Linked DNA regions of Homo sapiens. The protein of the gene in region 1 binds, or shares a complex with, the protein of each later gene. Each region holds a gene or a part of one and is shown on either strand. Other genes may lie near its edges.

Region 1 (5,359 bases):
CCTCCCAGGTTCCAGGGGATTCTCCTGCCTCAGCCTCCCGAGTAGCTGGGATTACAGGCACACGCCACCACACCTGGCTAATTTTTGTATTTGTAGTAGAGATGGGTTTTGCCATGTTGGCCCAGGCTGGTCTCAGACTCCTGACCTCGGGTGATCTGCCCGCCTCAGCCTCCCAAAGCACTGGGATTATAGGTGTGAGCCATTGCACCCGGCCTCTTTCTTGGTTCTTAATACCAAATCGGAAGCAACCCTAGACCTTTCTTCCACTAATCTGTCACCAAGGCCTTCAGATTCCTGCATGTCCCCACCCTCAGCTTCGTTCTCCCGACTCACCCTGCCCCCCGCTCCTGCCAGGCCCACTATGTATAAATACATTAACCCTCTCCTTCTCTGTTCTTCTAGAGATCAGTGGTTTTGTGGTAATCACTGCCTCTGAGTACTTGATCTCACATCAGATGACAGGGCCCAAGGTGGATTGTGTAAGATACAGAACAAAAATGTAAAAACCAGAAAACAAACATAAAAGCATCACATTTCAAATAGGACATAAAGGTCCCTAGATTTTTAATCAAAATATTTTACAATTTTTGCTCTGCTAGCATGAGATCAACAAGAAAACCCAACAGGAATACATAAAAAACTTAACAAGTTGACTTTAATAAGTAAAAATTACAACATTCTTCTCCCAGCAATGAACAATTTCATTTTTTAAAAGTAAACGAGGCCTAAAACAAGAGGGCACAGGAACAAGTAGTCAGATGGATTTAGGTGAGCACTGTACACAAGCTTTGAGGAAGTGCAAAGGACTGACCTCTAGGCCAGAACAAGATGGAAAACTACCAGGCCCATCAGGCCTATAACCCAGACACCAGCATGGACAAAACTCAGTTATACTGAATTCAGAGACAAAATTCAGTGACACTCTTCTACCACTTATTTAGGGTTCTACAGCATTTCACTGAGCAGACTTAGTTTTTTGTTTTTGTTTTACAAACCTTTTAAACAGAGGGGATTTAAAAAATGCAAACTAGGACTACGATGTTAAGACAACCACTAGCAGACAGCTGCGGACAGTTACTGGGTCTGAAGGTGAGGCTTCCCAACTCAAACAGAGAAGTCATTGGGATAAACTCTGCCTCTTTCATCTTTCACCACCCATATCCTTAAAACAGGACAAGATGGGATGACCACACCAGGTAACATCACCGAGGTCTCAAAGTAGCAGCTAAAATGTGCCAGAACTCTTCACCCTGTCTAGGACCTATGTTCCACTCTCTCAGCAACAAAAGGATCTATAACATGTTTTCTCAATAAGGCTTTAGTTTCTCCTCCAGCTTCAAGTGGCCTTCACTACTCAGAAACCAATTCTACCTCTTTTGCTTTCTTCTTCTTCTTCTTCTTCTTGGTGGTATCACTGTCCTAGAAAGAAAGAGAATGAAAGCTCACAGATACCATCCACTAACAAAGCTATGACTCTCCCAGAAGGAAATCTGGTAAAGGTCCACAGTCAAGCAAGCCTTTTTCAGGACCTGTAAGGATATTTTGGGTTAAATGCTGCATGTGACACAAAGTTCTGTAAACCTTTCAGTGACACCCTAGTGGTCTACTTTTGGAAGTGGAAACATTCAGATCACCATCCTACACATCCTCTCCACCCACCATCAATAGAGCTCTAAGTATAAGTGGTAGAGGTCGGGTGCCTCTATCTGTCCATTCCACAGGGAGGGCAAAAGCACTCCAGGAACATGGGGAAGCACTAAAGGCACTCGGTGGCATCCCACCCCCAGGCCACAGCTCCTCCAAGAAGAGTAACAAAGCTGGTACCACCTGGGTAATTCTTTCCCCACGCAGGGACTAAGCCAGCCCAAGGAACCTGAACGTGTTTCCACACACCCCATCTCCAGGCTCGGCCCCGCTCTCCAGACCAGCTTTGGCCTTCTTGTCCTTCTTACTCTTCTTCTTTTCCTTCTTGATCAACTGAGGAGCTGCTGGAGGAGTCTCGTCACTTTCACTCTCACTCTCTCGCTTCCGCTGAGATGAAAGCAATTGGTTAAGTGTTAGATCTTGGGCAATAATGGACAAGAAAGGTTCAGTGAGTCAAAAGGTAGCAAGGCACCAAGAAAGATCCCAACTGAATCTAACAGGACGTTTTCTGACTACAAACCCGGACAGGGCCTTAGTTTACTGAGGATTTGAAGACAGTCTCATCCCCCAAATCCAAGAAGCCTTGAGGCAGGCACAAGAGAAGGAGCACAGCAGCAGCACGGGGCTTGGGGTGGAAAGGCCCGGAGGAGCTGTTTCTCTCATGACTGCAAGGACCTCTCACAGAAAGCAGGCAAAGCAGGAATTCACATCTGACAAGTCAGAAGCTCCTCCCACACAGCCTGTGCAGGATACTCAGTACCGCCCCCGGTTTCTGAGTGCAGACCTGTCATTCTGTGCTCTAATGCCAGCAGCTCCATGGGGTGGAGTTGCCAACCCATGCTTGACTGACTCTTTCAACACTGGGTGGTGCCAGGTTAAGATGCAATTCTGCTCTCTGCTGAATTTTGTATGGCCTCGAATGTCCAACAGCCATGGCCTCTGATTTCAACACATCTGTCCTACCATTTGACCCAGGGCGGGGGCCAGAATTGACACACACACCACCACCCATTCCATCACTGTGTTGCTGCCATAGCTGAGGTAGGAGTCGAGGCCCATCTGATTCCTGAGCCCACATTCCTCCTCCCAGCAGATAGGACAGAGAATACAAATCAGAGGAGCCTGCAGAGCCCAAACAAGCACCCCAGGGTATGAGGCAGCATTACCTGTGTATGCGCTGCACCTCTGATGCTAGCGTATATGGCTGGACTGCGGACAGTCACAAAGTAAGACGAATGCCAGTGCCTCTTAGGATTATCTCCCTAAGCACATTCCAAACTGAGGACAGCATGCCACTCACCTTCGCAGTTTTTGCTGCTTCGGCAACTACCTGCGGGGCTTTTACCACTTCAGCAACCACCTCTTTTTTGGCAGACTCACTGAAAAAGAGGTAGCAATAGGTCAAATTCACTGAATGGCTTTCCAGGGCAGTACTGATGTTATGTAGTGTTATCTGGCAAGTCTAAAGCCACCATCAAAATACTGACGCTGGACAGAAGAACTCACCACTTACTGTTGCAGACTGACTCCCTCTAGAGTCCCACGAGCCAGACTAGAAAGGGATAACTGTCTGCCGTGCAGGCCCACACCCCTAACTGGCCTGGGCAGCCAAAATCTCACGGGAGCTGAAGAGCTGGTTCCTGTGGTCCTGCATTTAGCAAGTTTGCCCCAAACCAAGTGACTCCCCCTCCCCTGGGCTCTACAACCTCCATGCTCACCTGTTCCTCACCTGTTGTCCATGTACTCCTGCGTCCAGATGGCAAGTGGGCTCTACCTTCCCATCCTCACCTGTTGTTGACATACTCCTGCATCAAGGCAGCAAGTGTGCCGTCTCTACCCACCCCGGCTCTGAAACATCCTGCCCTCACCTGTAGTCAACATACTCCTGCTTCCAGGTGGCAGGTGTGCTGTCTGTGGGCTTCCCATGCTTGTCCAGAAGGCCCTGCTTGATCATCAGCTTCTTCTGACTTGCCTGGTGGAACATCAAGGTGTCAACATTAGAATGGTGTCAATGCTGGAAGCGGGCATGGTGACTACAAAGAATAGAACAAGGTTCCTCCCTGGTGTATTCTCAGCAGGGCCTCAAACTCCTCTCCAGAGCATTCAGAATTTGCCCACTAACTCCAACACACACAGGACTTGTTGAAGATCACAAAGCTTATTAGTGAGAGCCTCTGCAGACATAACGTCCCCACCGCAGCCACTCTACTTTTTTGCCTTTGCACATGCTGCTTGCTCCCAATGCCCTGAACTCTCCCCTCCCCTCTTCACTTCACCAACACCTAACCCACTCTTCACACCGGTGTGGCTTAACAGACAATCCCTTGACCAGACTCCTTGACCACTGTGGACACTCCAGGTGACAGACACCTCTCTGCACTCCTTGGTAGCCACTAACGTGCATGAAATTCGCCATTCCACTGTGTGATTACGTGAGTAATGCCCAACTGTTTCCCCTCATTAGACTGAAATCTCTAAGGCCCAAGACAGGGCCTGTTTCCACTCATCGACAACCCAGAGCCCAGCACAATACAAGGCTGTGGTGGTGAAACACACCAAGAGCTGCCCAAGTATTCAACAATGCCAAACAAAAGAACCTGGCAGGAGCCGCCCCATCCGGGAGGGAGGTGGGGGGGGGTCAGCCCCCCCGCCCGGCCAGCCGCCCCGTCCGGGAGGTGAGGGGCGCCTCTGCCCGGCCGCCCCTACTGGGAAGTGAGGAGCCCCTCTGCCCGGCCGCCACCCCGTCTGGGAGGTGTGCCCAACAGCTCATTGAGAACGGGCCAGGATGGCAATGGCGGTTTTGTGGAATAGAAAGGCGGGAAAGGTGGGGAAAAGATTGAGAAATCGGATGGTTGCCGTGTCTGTGTGGAGAGAAGTAGACATGGGAGACTTTTCATTTTGTTCTGCACTAAGAAAAACTCTTCTGCCTTGGGATCCTGTTGATCTGTGACCTTACCCCCAACCCTGTGCTCTCTGAAACATGTGCTGTGTCCACTCAGGGTTAAATGGATTAAGGGCGGTGCAAGATGTGCTTTGTTAAACAGATGCTTGAAGGCAGCATGCTCCTTAAGAGTCATCACCACTCCCTAATCTCAAGTAATCAGGGACACAGACACTGCGGAAGGCCGCAGGGTCCTCTGCCTAGGAAAACCAGAGACCTTTGTTCACTTGTTTATCTGCTGACCTTCCCTCCACTATTGTCCCATGACCCTGCCAAATCCCCCTCTGTGAGAAACACCCAAGAATTATCAATAAAAAAATAAATTTAAAAAAAAAAAAAAAAAAAAAAGAACCTGGCAGGGCACGCAACCCAGTACCACTTACCTTTGGACCTAAACCCCACTTCCGAGGGTAAGTGTCTCTCTCCATGATCACTCTCTTGATCTTGGCTACTATACCATGGTCGCAGGTAGAGATGACCGCTGTGGTCATTAATGCAATAGCTACAGGCATTGAATAAAGAAAAGAATTATTTGAAGGGTGAAAGAATTGATAATTGATGAGCCCCAATTCTACTGTTGTATGCCACTTTAAAACTTTTAAAACTCTGAGCTACTACTTTAATTGGGGTTACCTTTGCTCAGGATGTGCATATGGAGGAAATACTCCATTATGAGAAGGAGGCCTTTGAAATGACGTTAAACTTCTGAAGTTAAAAAACACCTAACCAAAGCACCTAACGATACACATAACAGGCTTGCAGCTCAAGACGTCT
Region 2 (5,559 bases), on another chromosome or scaffold:
TGGCAACTGGGTTGTCTGCCTCCTGGGGAGCCCCGGGGAGCGGAGGAGAGTGCTCCTGCTCCCCTCAGAGCTGAGTAATGGTCCCCATGCTGCTGGAGAATGGCAAACAGTGTGGAGTGTGGGCGACAGGCGCCCTGTCACTGTCTGCACAGTCTCACACGGTCACACCCAACAGTCTGACCCAGCTCCTGCTCAGCCCCGCTCACCCTGACCCCTGCCGCCCCCACCTTGGGAGTGAGATTTCAAACAGGTTTCCCCCTTCAGTTTACCAAGTTGCCTAGCAACCAACCAGTCAATGGCATGAAGCCCCACCCCCACCCACTTGACTTCACACCAAGCTCAGCCGCCCCATTGGCTCCTGCCTGGTCCCACCTCTCAACGCCTGGTTTCAGGACCAATATGCCATACCCACTGCTGCTGGACCAGGGAGCCCGCCAGTCCCCCTGCCTGGTCCCCCACCTCACTCATATGCCCCCCCAAAACAGACACGAAGACTCTAGTATCATAAAAACCTTTTTATATCAGCTCACCCACACCTCCCTCCGTTCCTCCCTGCCCTTTCTCGCCCTGGTGATCATCAGGGATGCTGGAGTCTGGCGCCCCCCCACACCACCAGAGCTGAAGCCGACATTCAAGGTGGACGTGGCGCGTGGAGAGCAAGGGAAGGCCCAGCTCCTCTCCTTCGTCCCCACTCTCTGTGGGCTCAGGAAACACACGCTGACCGGAGGCAGTGGCCAGGAGAGGCAGGCTAGGGTGCAGGCTGAGGGAGAGATGGGGAGGGTCTATCAGTGCCTTCAGTGAGGACACTTGCTCCCTCTGGGATTCACCTCCCTCCCCAACCCAAGCCCCAACATCTCTGGAATTGAACTGAGGACCTCACGCCATTGGTGCAGTCCTTCTGGGGCAGAAAACTCAACACGGGCTCCGGCTTCCCATCATTGCCAGGCCCGTCCGTGTCCCACACAGAGACAGCCCCGCTCGTGCTGCCACTCACTAGGAACTGCCCGGTCCTGCGAGAGAGAGGAGAGATTTGCTGGCAGAGGCCTCACCCCTGGGGCAGGAACCCCTCACACCCAGGGACTGGGACCCTACAGCTGGGCTCTGGCATTCCTAGGCTTATCAGGGCCCTGTGTAGGAAGGAGTCACAGCCACTCACGGGTCCAGATCGAAGTAGATGCGCTGATTGGTGGTCACCTCTCGACCCAGGGACCACAGTGGGTAACCAGACTGCCGGAGATCCCAGCACAGGAGCTCAGCATCCTGGAGACAAGGAACAGGACCTGGAGTCACCCCCAAAGCCCTGGATGTCCCTGCCTCCCTCGGGGTCTCCAGGCACTCCTTCAGCTTGGGATTTTTTCCCCATCCCCACCCATTCCCCTACACTGCAGACTACATCCCTGCTCCTGCCCCGCTGCCCAGCTGCTTTGGGCTCTCAGGGTGTGACCCCTACCTTGCGGGCTCCTGAGAAGAAGCGGTTGCCATCGGGATGAAAGCAGAGGTGGGTGATGCCCCCTTGGTGCCCTCCCAGCAAGGCGAGAGGGGAGCCATCATCCCAGGCATACAGACCCAGGGAGCGGCCGTAGGAGCCACAGGCATAGAGGGGCTGGGCTGGGCTGAAGGCTATGCAGGAGATGATGCCGCTCTGGCCCTGCTTTTTTGCTAGAGAGGGAAGGAACAAAGTGGGGGAGGGGGCAATGGCTCCTGGCACTAACCAGGCTAAGCAGAGGTCTGTCTCCCGTCCCAGCACCAACATGCTTGGACTCAACATCCCCCCCATGCTGTCTGTCACAAGCAGGACAAAGACCTCTGATGCTCCCCACATCTATCCTCCCAAAGGACCTAAATGCCCAAGCCCCACTTCATCCCTCTCAAATCCCAGTTCTTCCTTGGAGAGATGCAAGTTGAAGGCCTACAGGAAAACGGAATCAGCTTTATCAACAATTTTCTAGAAAGATTTCAGAGACCAAAAGCTCCACAGCTGACAGGGTATGAGTTCAGGAAGGAAGCAGTCCTTTGACCAGCTGGTTGGCCTTGGGAAGGTTTCCTACCTGCTCTGAGCCTGTTTGCTCCTCTGCCGACTGGGCTGCACCTGCTCCCGGGGCCGTACAGAGGACGGCGTGAACCCCCACAGGTGGCCCCCGGCTCACAAAAGGCCCCTGTGCAGGTGGCAGTGCCCTTCCCTCTCCTCCTCCCTTGGAGGCACAGATGCTTACCAAATGTGGCTCGGACCTCGCAGTCTCGGCCAGGCCGGGCCGTGGAAAAAACACGCACAGTCCGGTTGAAGCCACAGAAGAGCTGGGAGCCATCCGGGGAGAAGCAGAGCGAATGGGCTGCCGTCAGCTCATCCTGGGGGAAGGAAAGGGCTGAAAACAGGTCTTGCAAAGCCTCAGCTGCCCTCAAGGAAGGAGAGCCGGGCCAGTACGAGTGCTGGGGCTGAGTATGGCGGTCCCTACCAGGTGGTTGTAGGCGCGAAAGGAAGCCCGGAGCTCTCCAGTGAATGCGTCCCAGATATGAATCGGGTTCTCCCGGCTGCTGCTGGCCACGCTGAGAGAGACATGGACACTGAAACCCCGGTGCTGTCAAAGGAAGGGGAGGAATGGCCGGGCACAGTGGCTCATGCCTGTAATCCCAGCACTTTGGGAGGCCAAGGCAGGTGGATCACTTGAGGTCAGGAGTTCGAGACCAGCCTGGCCAACATGGTGAAACCCTGTCTCTACTAAAAATACAAAAATGAGGCTGGGTGTGGTGGCTCATGCCTGTAATCCAAGCACTTCAGGAGGCCAAGGCAGGTGGATCACCTGAGGTCAGTTCGAGACCAGCCTGGCCAACGTGGTGAAACCCCATCTCTATGAAAAATACACAATTAGCTGGGTGTGGTGGTGCACACCTGTAATCCCAGCTACTCAGGAGGCTGAGGCAGGAGAATCACTTCAACCTGGGAGGCGGAGGTTGCAGTGAGCTGAGACTGCATCACCGCCCTCCAGCCTGGGTGACAGAGGGAGACTCAATCTAAAAAAAAAAAAAGGAAGGGGAGGAAGCCAACTGACCAGCCCCTCTGATAAGCATGCCAAGCCTTCCTCCTCCAAAGACCCCTGGCAGCCCTTGACTCTCCCAAGAGGCCCTGCTTGAAACTGGGTGGTGGGGCGGCGAGCAGGGAGGCAAACATTACTTACTAGGAGGTGTCTGGCTGGGCTGAGGACATCAGAGAATACCAGCAGTAATCATAGATGGTATCACCTTCCACCATTCGAAGGACAGGGACCTATACAGAGACGGGGGAATGGCTGAGTCACTCGGAGGGAAAAGGAGTCTGAGGCGCGTGCCTCTAGCAGTGTTGTGGCAGATGGGGTGTATATATGGAGCACAGACTCTGTCTCAATGTTCAAGGGTGAGCTCAGACTTTAATGTCAAATTTAGCCACCAAAAGCCATATAGATTCATACTTTTTTTTTTTTATTATTTTGAGACAGAGCATGCACCACCATGCCTGGCTAATTTTGTTTTTGTTTTTTTTTTTAATAGAGACAGGGTTTCACCATGATGTTGGCCAGGCTGGTCTCAAACTTCTGACCTCAGGTGATCCACCCGCCTCAGCCTCCAAAAGTGCTGGGATTACAGGTGTGAGCCACCGTGCCGGGCCTTATACTTTTTCTTTATAAACACTTAGAGAGGAAGAAACAAATAATAATACCTCAACCCAGAGACAAAGAACCAACCAATTATTCAAATACTTACTGAGTACATGCTAGGTGCCATTTGATCCTTTAAAAAAATATTAGTACAAAAATTTGCCAGGCGTGGTGGTGGACACCTGTAATCCCAGATACTCAGGAGGCTGAGGCAGGAGAATCCCTTGAACCCAGGAGACAAAGGTTGCAGTGAGCTGAGATCGCACCACTGCACTCCACCCTAGGTGACAGAGAGACAGTGCCCCCCAAAAAAAAAAGAAAAAGAAAAGAAAAAAATTATCGGCTGAGCACAGTGGCTCACACCTGTAATCCCAGCACTTAGGGAGGCTGAGGCAGGCAGATCACTTGAGCCCAGGAGTTCAAGACCAGCCTGGGCAATATGGTGAAACACTGTCTCTACAAGAAAAAAAAATTAGCTGGGCATGGTAGTGCATGCCTGTAGTCCCAGCTACTAGGGAGGCTGAGGCATGAGAATTGCTTGAGCCCAGGAGATAGAGACCACAGTGAGCTGAGATCATTGCCACTGCACTCCAGCCTGGGCAACAGAAACACTGTCTCAAAAATACAAAAATGGAAACAAAAAAACCTCCTTACAAAAATAAAGAAAAAAAATTAAACAGTTCAAACATACAAAGTATCTTATTAAAAAAACAGCCCTGTGACCCCTCCATCCAGCTGAACAAAAAGATATGTTTAAACCCCTTTCCTAACAGAAACTCTCCCTCAGAGGTAAACACTATCTTGAATTTATCACTGTCATACATTTCCTTAGGAATATATATATATATATAAATATATATATATATATATAAATATATATATATATATATATATATAAATATATATATATATATAAATATATATATATATATAAATTTTTTTTTTTTAATTTTAAAGGCAGAGTCTCACTCTGTCACCCAGGCTGAGTGCAGTGGCACGATCTCAGTTCACTGCAACCTCCACCTCCCAGGTTCAAGCAATTCTTGTGTCTCAGCCTCCCGAGTAGCTGGGATTGCAGGAGTTCACCTCCATGCTCAGCTAATTTTTTGTATTTTTAGTATAGACAGGGTTTCGCCACGTTGGCCAGGCTGGTCTCGAACTCTTGGCCTCAAGTGATCTTTCTGCCTCAGCCTCCCAAAGTGCTGGGATTACAGGTGTGAGCCACTGCGCCCAGCCTAGGAGTATATTCATATGGGAAAAAAAACAGTATCTAACGTTGTCTTGCAGGTCTTTAGACTTAATTTTTTCTTTTCTTAGAGACAGGGTCTTACTCTGTTGCCTAGGCTGGAGCACAGTGGCGCAATCATCTCACTGAAACCTCAAACTCCTGGGCTCAAGCAAACAATCCCCTGGCCTCAGCCTCCCTAGTAACTGGGAATATAAGCATAAGCCACCATACCTGGCTTATTTATTTATTTATTTATTTATTTATTTATTTTTGACGGAGTCTCGCTCTGTCGCCCAGGCTGGAATGCAGTGGCACAATCTTGGCTCACTGCAACCTCTGCCTCCCAGACTCAAGCAATTCTCTGCCTCAGCCTCCTGAGTAGCTACGATTACAGGCGCCTGCTATCACGCCCGGCTAATTTTTTTGTATTTTTAGTAGAGACGGGGTTTCACCATCTTGGCCAGGCTGGTCTTGAACTCCTGACCTCGTGATCCACCCACCTCAGTCTCCCAAGTGCTGGGATTACAGGCATGAGACACCACGCCCAGCCTGCCCGGCTAATCTTTAAAATTATTTTTTTGTAGAAACAGGGGTCTGTGTTGCTCACGCTGGTCTAAAACTCCTGGCCTCAAGCAATCCAGCCACCTCAGCCTTTCAATGCACTGGGATTACAAGCATGAGCCACCATGCCCGGCCTAGACT
Region 3 (7,553 bases), on another chromosome or scaffold:
ACCGTCTTAGAGGGGATATAGACATAGGGCAAATTTCGGTCCTCACACATGACTGGGAGATGGCAGTATACCTCAATGGGCAGTGTGTCTCCTGCCAAAACCATGATCCTGAAATGAGAGAAAACACTGTCATCTCTGGCTTGCTCCTTCCTTCTTTCAGTTTTAAGTGCTGCCCTGGGCTGGGTCTTAGGGATAGAGACAAAATTGTGTTTGGTGAGCACACTATTTGGGGGTGATCTCTACCTCTTGGCAACATACAGGTGCCACCAAAGTGATGTAGTGCTCGGACAGGTGAAGTACAGGATGGGTGCCAAGGTGTATGAGCTCAGCTCTCTTTGGAGAGTCAAAAAAGGGTTCAACCAGGAGGTGACACTTGAACAGCACGCTGATGGATGACTGTGTGGCAGGCAGCCCACGGAGGGGCTGGGGCGGGGGAGAGCATGTGGTGTGAGAATCAGAACGGCACCAGACACAGCCGAGAGACTGGCAGGGGACACCCCCAAGACCTTGAGTACCAGGCTAAGAAGCATGGGCTCTGTCCCAAGAGTGACAGTGAGGCAATGAAAGCTTGCCAGAGACTCAGCCAGGGTTCCTAGCTGGCCAGGTGTCAAGGCTGGGGGGCAAGGGCCTCAGGAGCCTAAGACACAGAAGGAAAAGTCTGCTCTCCCATGCTGGATAACAGGCGGACACACAAGGACAGAGCCCTCGGCTGAAAGAATGCTTCCGCACTCCTAGTGCTCCTCTGGGCCCTCTGCTGGCTCCCCTTCTGTTAAGCGCCTTTCACTGTGAGTGTTCCTCACAGCCTTGTCCTCGGCTGCCCTCTCCTCTCAGGACCTTCTTCCTGGCTGACCGGAGCCACTGCCATGGGGTCAGGTGCCATCTATGTGCTGAAAACTCCCAGATGTACTATCTCCAGCCTGGCCCTCTCTCTTCCATGCTCCAAACCCCTATAGCCATCTGCCTGTTTGACAGTTCTCCTGGTGTGGGGCGGGGTGGAAGTCATGTGTCTCTACAGCACCTCAAAAACTTACCCAGACCCAAATTTGTGATCTTTCTACACAAATCTGGTCCCCCTCCACTGTTCACATCTCAAGATTGGGCCCTCTGTCCCTCCAGCTGGGCATGTCAGAACCTAGAAGTCGTCAATACCTCCCCATTCTCCACATCTGAAAGTCCTTTCAAATCTGTCCCCTTTAACTCTGTCTCCACCATCACCTCTCCAGGACTACAGTAGTCTACTACCTGAACTTTCCCAAACCTACTCGTACCTCTCTAATCCTTTCTTCAATTGTCAGAAAAATCTTAGGGTGTAAAAAATAATAAAAATTATGTCACTTCCTGGCTTTAACCCCTAATAGCCTCCAAAGTGCTGAGTATAAAAACTAAATTTACTGTGTCCTACAAGGCCCCCTAAGAAGGTAGCACTTCTGCTCACCAGACCCTCTCCTGCCCAGAGGCCCACTCTTTCTTCTGGCAGAATCCTCCCACCCACCCCCCAATTAATCCCTGTGTCTTAAGACCTCAGCTCAAATGTGACTGCTGAGGGAAACTTCCCCAGATGCGCCCTCCCCAGCTAGGTTAGATGCCGTTGAGCATCAAGTCTGCCCAACATTATTGATCTCTTGAGCACCTACAGTTTCACTTCTTGGGATAAAGCAAGGAGGCCCTGTTCTGAAGGAGCTTACCATCTGGCCTGAGAGGGTGATAAAGGGAAGAAAAATGTAAACAAGGTTCAAACTTTGATAAATGCCATTAAGAAAAGTGGGGTGATGAAGTTATCATTGCACTCTGTTATTTTCCTTCATGGCTATCTATCACAACGTGTAATTAGTTGTGTGTGTGTCATTATCTGATGAATGAATGTCACTGTTTCCCCCATAACACAGTGCCTGAAAAAGAGTACATTCAATTGTTAAGGCTGCCAGGCGCGGTGGCTCATGCCTGTAATCCCAACGCTTCGGGAGGCTGAGGCAGGAGGATTCCTTGAGCCCAGGAGTTCAAGACCAGCCCGGGCAACATGGCGAGACTCCTCTGTCTCTGCAAAACAACAATAACAACAGCCAGGCGTGGCGCAAGCCGGTGGTCTCAGCTATTCGGGAGGCTGAGGTGGGAGGATCGCTTGAGCCCAGGGGGACGAGGCTGCAGCGAGCTGTGATCGCACCACCGCACTCCAACCTGGGTGAGAGCTAGACCCATCTCAAAAACAAACAAAAACGTTAACGTTCAGTTCCTTAAATACAGAGCCGGAGAGGGGTCATCCCTAGGACTGAGATTCAGGGCTGAGAGGATTAGGGCGGGGGCCGGAGGTAATCTGAGGCAAGGAGCGGAGCCCGGGGAGGAGGGTCCCTGAATTAATGAAGGTGGGTTTACTCTAAGGGACTTTGCTTACACAATTCGCTTCACTTTGGAATTCACTTTGAGCTGGTATACGTGGTGTACCGGTATTGTCGTACCGGTATTGTACCAAAGGGACTTTACCGACTGCTTGATTGGCTTCTGTATATGGGGCTAGGTCAGAGTTAACCTTTTTACTGCGCGCCTACTAAGTAGAGATTTCTCCGTTAACGTTTAGAAATGCAAAATCCAGAGGAAGGAAGGTTCTTACCCTTTTTCTCCTTTGTTGACAAATTTCTGAACCTCTTTCACCCCGCGCCGAATCTGCTTCTGCTTCACCGCTGCAACGACAGAAGAGTCGGTCGGGGGCCTCGCTCAGCCACCCGCGCACCCATCCCACCCGCGCACCCATCCCGGCCACGCCGCCGTCCGCCTCACCTTTCTTGATGCATTTGTAGAGCTTCCGCGTGAGGCGGCGAGAAGCCAGGGGCTGCGCGATGGGGTTCTGGTTGACCAGCAGCTCCTGGTAGGTGCGCTCCCCGGAACACGCCTCCGCCTGAGCCTCGGGCCCGTCGGGATCTGCCTTTATTTTGGTCATCGCAGCGGCCGCTGAAACCTAGTCCCAGGGAGGCGAGCCCACGCGGTCCACAGCTTTAGGCATCACTTCCAGGTCATCAGCTGCGCGAGAAGCCGCCGTACAACACGGCCAATCAGGAAAGGAAGTCTCCGACTCAGCCCAATCGTTGACGCCCAGCTTCGTAACTACGGAGAGCGGAGAGGGGCGGAGTCATGGTCCTTAAGGCGGGGCCATCCCCGGACCAAGGGACTGGGCGGAACCGATTAGGGCGGAGCGGAGGGAATGTGAGGCAAGGGGCGGAGCCCTGGGAATCGGGGCCGGAGAGGGCGGGGCTCTGGGTGCTGGAAAGGCTGCCTCGTTTTTTTTCTTTTTTGAGGCAGAGTTTCGCTCTTATTGCCCAGGCTGGGGTACAGTGGCGCAATCTCGACTCACTGCAACCTCCGCCTCCCGGGTTCAAGCGATTCTCCTACTTCAGCCTCCCGAGTAGCTGGGATTGCAGGCATGCGCCACCACGCCCAGATAATTTTGTATTTTTACTAGAGACAGGGGTTCTCCATGTTGGTCAGGCTGGTCTTGAACTCCTGACCTCAGGCGATCCGCCCGCCTCGGCCTCCCAAAGTGCTGGGATTACAGGCGTGAGCCACCGCGCCCGGCCTAAGGCTGCCTCCTTTCTTGCATAATTTTTCTTTGTTTTCTGACCCCTGGACCCGGCTGCGCAGGTGTGAAAGATACAGAGCAAGGGATGACCCCACTGACCTGCGTCTGCACCGCTTTTCCACAGATAGCGTGTGGCTCACTCTCATCCCGCAGGGTTCCGTTTCAGTGTTTCCCATGGGAGAGGTTTCCCTGGTGATTTTATCTAAAATTGCCGTCCCCTCTCTCTCCAAACCAGCATCCCTTCACCCGCTATTTTCCCGCAGTTCTTACCATTGCCTGACGCTACACATGCAGAGGGCCTAGCCGAGAAGCCAGCCGGGGCTGAGGGAAGGACGGCTCCAGCGAAGCCGGGAACAGCGGAGGGAAGGCTTTGGGGACTGAGCTCCCTGCCGTGCAGGGTGAGAGCTATGAGGAGCTACCCTTTGGACGGGTCTGTAGAAGGTAAAGGGACAGAGCTGCCAGGGCGTGGGGGGCGGTGGCAGGCCGAGATCCAGTGGATCTTGGTATCTCTGATTAGCCTCTTCCACTATATTTTGGAACTCTGGATGGATATTAATTAGATAATCGCTGCAAATTACTAATTTGTAATACTAATTACCTTTGATCCTGATGTGGCAGGCCTGCCATTTTTGTGTTGCTGGAACAGGCCAGTAAGTAGAAACTTAGAAGTGTTCCGGTAGTTGTGGGTGGGAACACAGGTCAGTTAAACCAACTTAAAAATTGGCCTTTCCCGGGTGTGGTGACTCGTGCCTGTGGTTCCAGCTACCCGGGAGGCTGAGAGGGGGCTCGCTTGAGCCCAGAAGTTAGAGGCTTCAGTGAGCCATGACTGCACCTGTGAATAGCCACTGCACTCCAGTCTGGGCCACCCAGGAAAATCTTGTCTCTAAAACAAAACAACAACAACAAAAACCTTGTAACTCTGAACTAAAGTGCAATAAATTTTGTTTTGCATTAAATAAAAACAAATAGGCTGGGCGCGGTGCCTGTAATCCCAGCACTTTGGGAGGCCGAGGCGGGCAGATCATGAGGTCAGGAGATCGAGACCATCCTGGCTAACACGGTGAAACCCCCGTCTCTACTAAAAATCACTCTGTCCAGCAGAGTGATGGAGAATTTCACTCCTGAGAACCCAGTTCAAACAAATTCAAACAAATGGGCTCGCTTGACTGACCTCACTCAGAGCCTCGGTTGTGAAGTCCCTTCAGCTCTTACATGGAAGGAAAAAGAAAGTTAACATTTATGTGGCGAGCATATTATATACAATATCTCATTCAGTGCTCACCAAAAAATACCTCTATGGTAAAGGTAAAGACTTTACCATCCTTTTACCAGGAATATATAACTTTATATTCACAATTTACTGACACACATAAAGATGAATAGTTTGGTACAGCTCACACAAAGCTGGATTTGAACCCAGGTCCACTTGTCTCCAAGCCCAGACTTTACCCATACCTGTGATTTGACATTTGACTTCAGCTCAAAAGGATACGTAAATAGTGAAAGTGTAGGAACCTCAGCTTGGCCCAGGTCACACGTGTCTGCATTTTGAGCCATAAGACAATGAAGTGCTGAGAACAAATATGTCTTCAGAAAACCACAGTGTTTTCTTTTTCTTTTTTTTTCTTTTTTTTTTTTTTGAGATGGAGTCTCGCACTTTGGCCCAGGCTGGAGTGCAGTGGCACCATCTCGGCTCACTGCAAGCTCCGCCTCCCAGGTTCACGCCATTCTCCTGCCTCAGCCTGCCAAGTAGCTGGGACTACAGGTGCCCACCACCACATCCGGCTAATTTTTTGTATTTTTAGTAGAGACGGGGTTTCACTAGGGTTTCACCGTGTTAGCCAGGATGGTCTCGATCTCCTGACCTCATGTTCTGCCCGCCTCGGCCTCCCAAAGTGCTGGGATTACAGGCATGAGCCACCGCGCCCGGCCCCCTTTTTTTTTTAAGACAGAGTCTCCCTTTGTCACCCAGGCTGTGGCATGATCTCAGCTCACTGCAATATCTGCCTCCCAGATTCAAGTGATCCTACTGCCTCAGCCTCCCAAGTAGCTGGGATTACAGGCACCCGCCACCATGCCCAGCTAATTTTTGTACTTTTAGGAGAGATAGGGTTTTACCATGTTGGCCAGGCTGGCCTCGAACTCCTGACCTCAAGTGATCCACTCGCCTTGGCCTCCCAAAGTGTTGGGATTACAGATGTAAGCCACCGCACCTGGCCTGTTTTCTTTTTTTGTTGTTAACACACTGTGTATTTCTTATCTTTTTTTTTTTTTGAGACGGAGTCTCGCTCTGTCACCCAGGCTGGAGTATAGTGGCCCCATCTTGGCTCACTGCAAGCTCTGCCTCCTGGAATCACGCCATTCTCCTGCCTCAGCCTCCCGAGTAGCTGGGACTACTGGTGCCTGCCACTACACCTAGCTAATTTTTGTTGGTTTGTTTGTTTGTTTGAGACAGAGTCTCACTCTGTCGCCCAGGCTGGAGTGCAGTGGCACGATCTTGGCTCACCACAACCTCCACCACCCGGGTTCAAGCGATTCTCCTGCCTCAGCCTCCCGAGTAGCTGGGATTACAGACGCCTGCCACTGCACCCAGCTAATTTTTGTAGTTTTAGTAGAGACGGGGTTTCACCATCTTGGCCAAGCTGGTCTTGAACTCATGACCTCATGATCCACCCGCCTCGGCCTCCCAAAGTGCTGGGATTACAGGTGTGAGCCACTGCGCCCGGCCACGCCCAGCTAATTTTTGTATTTTGAGTAGAGACGGGGTTTCACTGTGTTATTCAGGATGGTCTCGATCTCTGACCTTGTGATCTGCCTGCCTGGGCCTCCCAAAGTGCTGGGATTACAGGTGTGAGCCACTGCGCCCAGCCAACACATTGTGTATTTCTAAAGCCAGACTCAGAAATCTGTTCTGAACCCAGGTTGTTTTGCATGACTTTATTACTTTATGGATTTTGTTGGAATGGCTATTTGAGCTTACTTTTTTGTTTCTTTTTTCTTTTTTTTTTGAGATGGAGTCTCGCTCTGTTGCCCCAGCTGGAGTGCAGTAGCGCAATCTCGGCTCACTGCAACCTCTGCCTCCCGGGTTCAAGCGAGTCTCATGCCTCAGCCTCCCAAGTAGCTGGGATTACAGGCATGCACCACCACACCTGGCTAACTTTTGTATTTTAGTAGAGACAGAGGTTCACCATGTTGGCCAGGCTGGTCTCAAACTCCTGACCTCACGTGATCTGCCTACCTCGAACTCCCAAAGTGCTGGGATTACAGGTGTGAGCTACTGTGCCCAGCTGAGTTTACTTTAAGCAGTGTACAGTGGCTGATAACATAAAAATTAATGGACACTGGTCCAGAGCTCTAAATGACAAATGACTTTAGGCAAGTCATTTAGCCTCTCTGGGCGTCAGTGCTTCACCATAAAGTGAGAAAGTTAGATCTAGATGGACTAAGGTCCATCTTTTAAAAAATTGGAGAGGATTTATTTATTTATTTATTTATTTATTTATTTATTTATTTATTTTGAGACGGAGTCTTGCTCTGTCACCCAGGTTGGAGTGCAGTGGCACGATCTCAGCTCACTGCAAGCTCCGCCTCCCGGGTTCACGCCATTCTCCTGCCTCAGCCTCTTGAGTAGCTGGGACTACAGGCACCCGCCACCACGCCTGGCTAATTTTTTGTATTTTTAGTAGAGACGGGGTTTCACTGTGTTAGCCAGGATGGTCTCGATCTCCTGACCTCGTGATCCACCCGCCTCGGCCTCCCAAAGTGCTAGGATTACAGGCGTGAGCCACCGCGCCCGGCCAGGAGAGAATCTCTTGAGCCCAGGAGATCGAGACTAACCTGCAGGAGGACCACCTGAGTCTGGGAGATCAAGGCTGTGGGGAGCTGTGATTGTGCCAATGAACTCCAGCCAGGGTGACACAGTGAGACCCCCACCTCAAAAAAAAAAAAAAAAAAAGAAAAGAAAAAAGAAACGCTGTACCCTTTA

What was found. Proteins that work in one complex are often made in the same cells at the same time.
Region 2: DKC1 (region 1) and WRAP53 share a complex: the UniProt entries of both Homo sapiens proteins name them as parts of the telomerase holoenzyme complex.
Region 3: DKC1 (region 1) and NHP2 share a complex: the UniProt entries of both Homo sapiens proteins name them as parts of the H/ACA small nucleolar ribonucleoprotein (H/ACA snoRNP) complex.

The regions. Positions count from the first base shown.
Region 1 is NC_000023.11:154,772,859-154,778,217, reverse strand, and holds the end of DKC1 (H/ACA ribonucleoprotein complex subunit DKC1), read right to left. Parts: intron 5,088-5,359; coding exon 4,969-5,087; intron 3,617-4,968; coding exon 3,513-3,616; coding exon of another isoform or gene 3,509-3,512; exon of another isoform or gene 3,024-3,508; coding exon 2,945-3,023; intron 2,032-2,944; coding exon 1,894-2,031; intron 1,420-1,893; coding exon 1,351-1,419; 3' UTR 529-1,350; downstream 1-528.
Region 2 is NC_000017.11:7,698,444-7,704,002, reverse strand, and holds the end of WRAP53 (telomerase Cajal body protein 1), read right to left. Parts: intron 3,263-5,559; coding exon 3,174-3,262; intron 2,545-3,173; coding exon 2,454-2,544; intron 2,347-2,453; coding exon 2,214-2,346; intron 1,660-2,213; coding exon 1,451-1,659; intron 1,261-1,450; coding exon 1,157-1,260; intron 1,011-1,156; coding exon 876-1,010; intron 761-875; coding exon 517-760; 3' UTR 501-516; downstream 1-500. UniProt on the Homo sapiens protein: RNA chaperone that plays a key role in telomere maintenance and RNA localization to Cajal bodies. Specifically recognizes and binds the Cajal body box (CAB box) present in both small Cajal body RNAs (scaRNAs) and telomerase RNA template component (TERC).
Region 3 is NC_000005.10:178,150,886-178,158,438, forward strand, and holds the start of NHP2 (H/ACA ribonucleoprotein complex subunit 2), read right to left. Parts: upstream 3,001-7,553; 5' UTR 2,933-3,000; coding exon 2,773-2,932; intron 2,676-2,772; coding exon 2,606-2,675; intron 109-2,605; coding exon 3-108; intron 1-2. UniProt on the Homo sapiens protein: Required for ribosome biogenesis and telomere maintenance. Part of the H/ACA small nucleolar ribonucleoprotein (H/ACA snoRNP) complex, which catalyzes pseudouridylation of rRNA.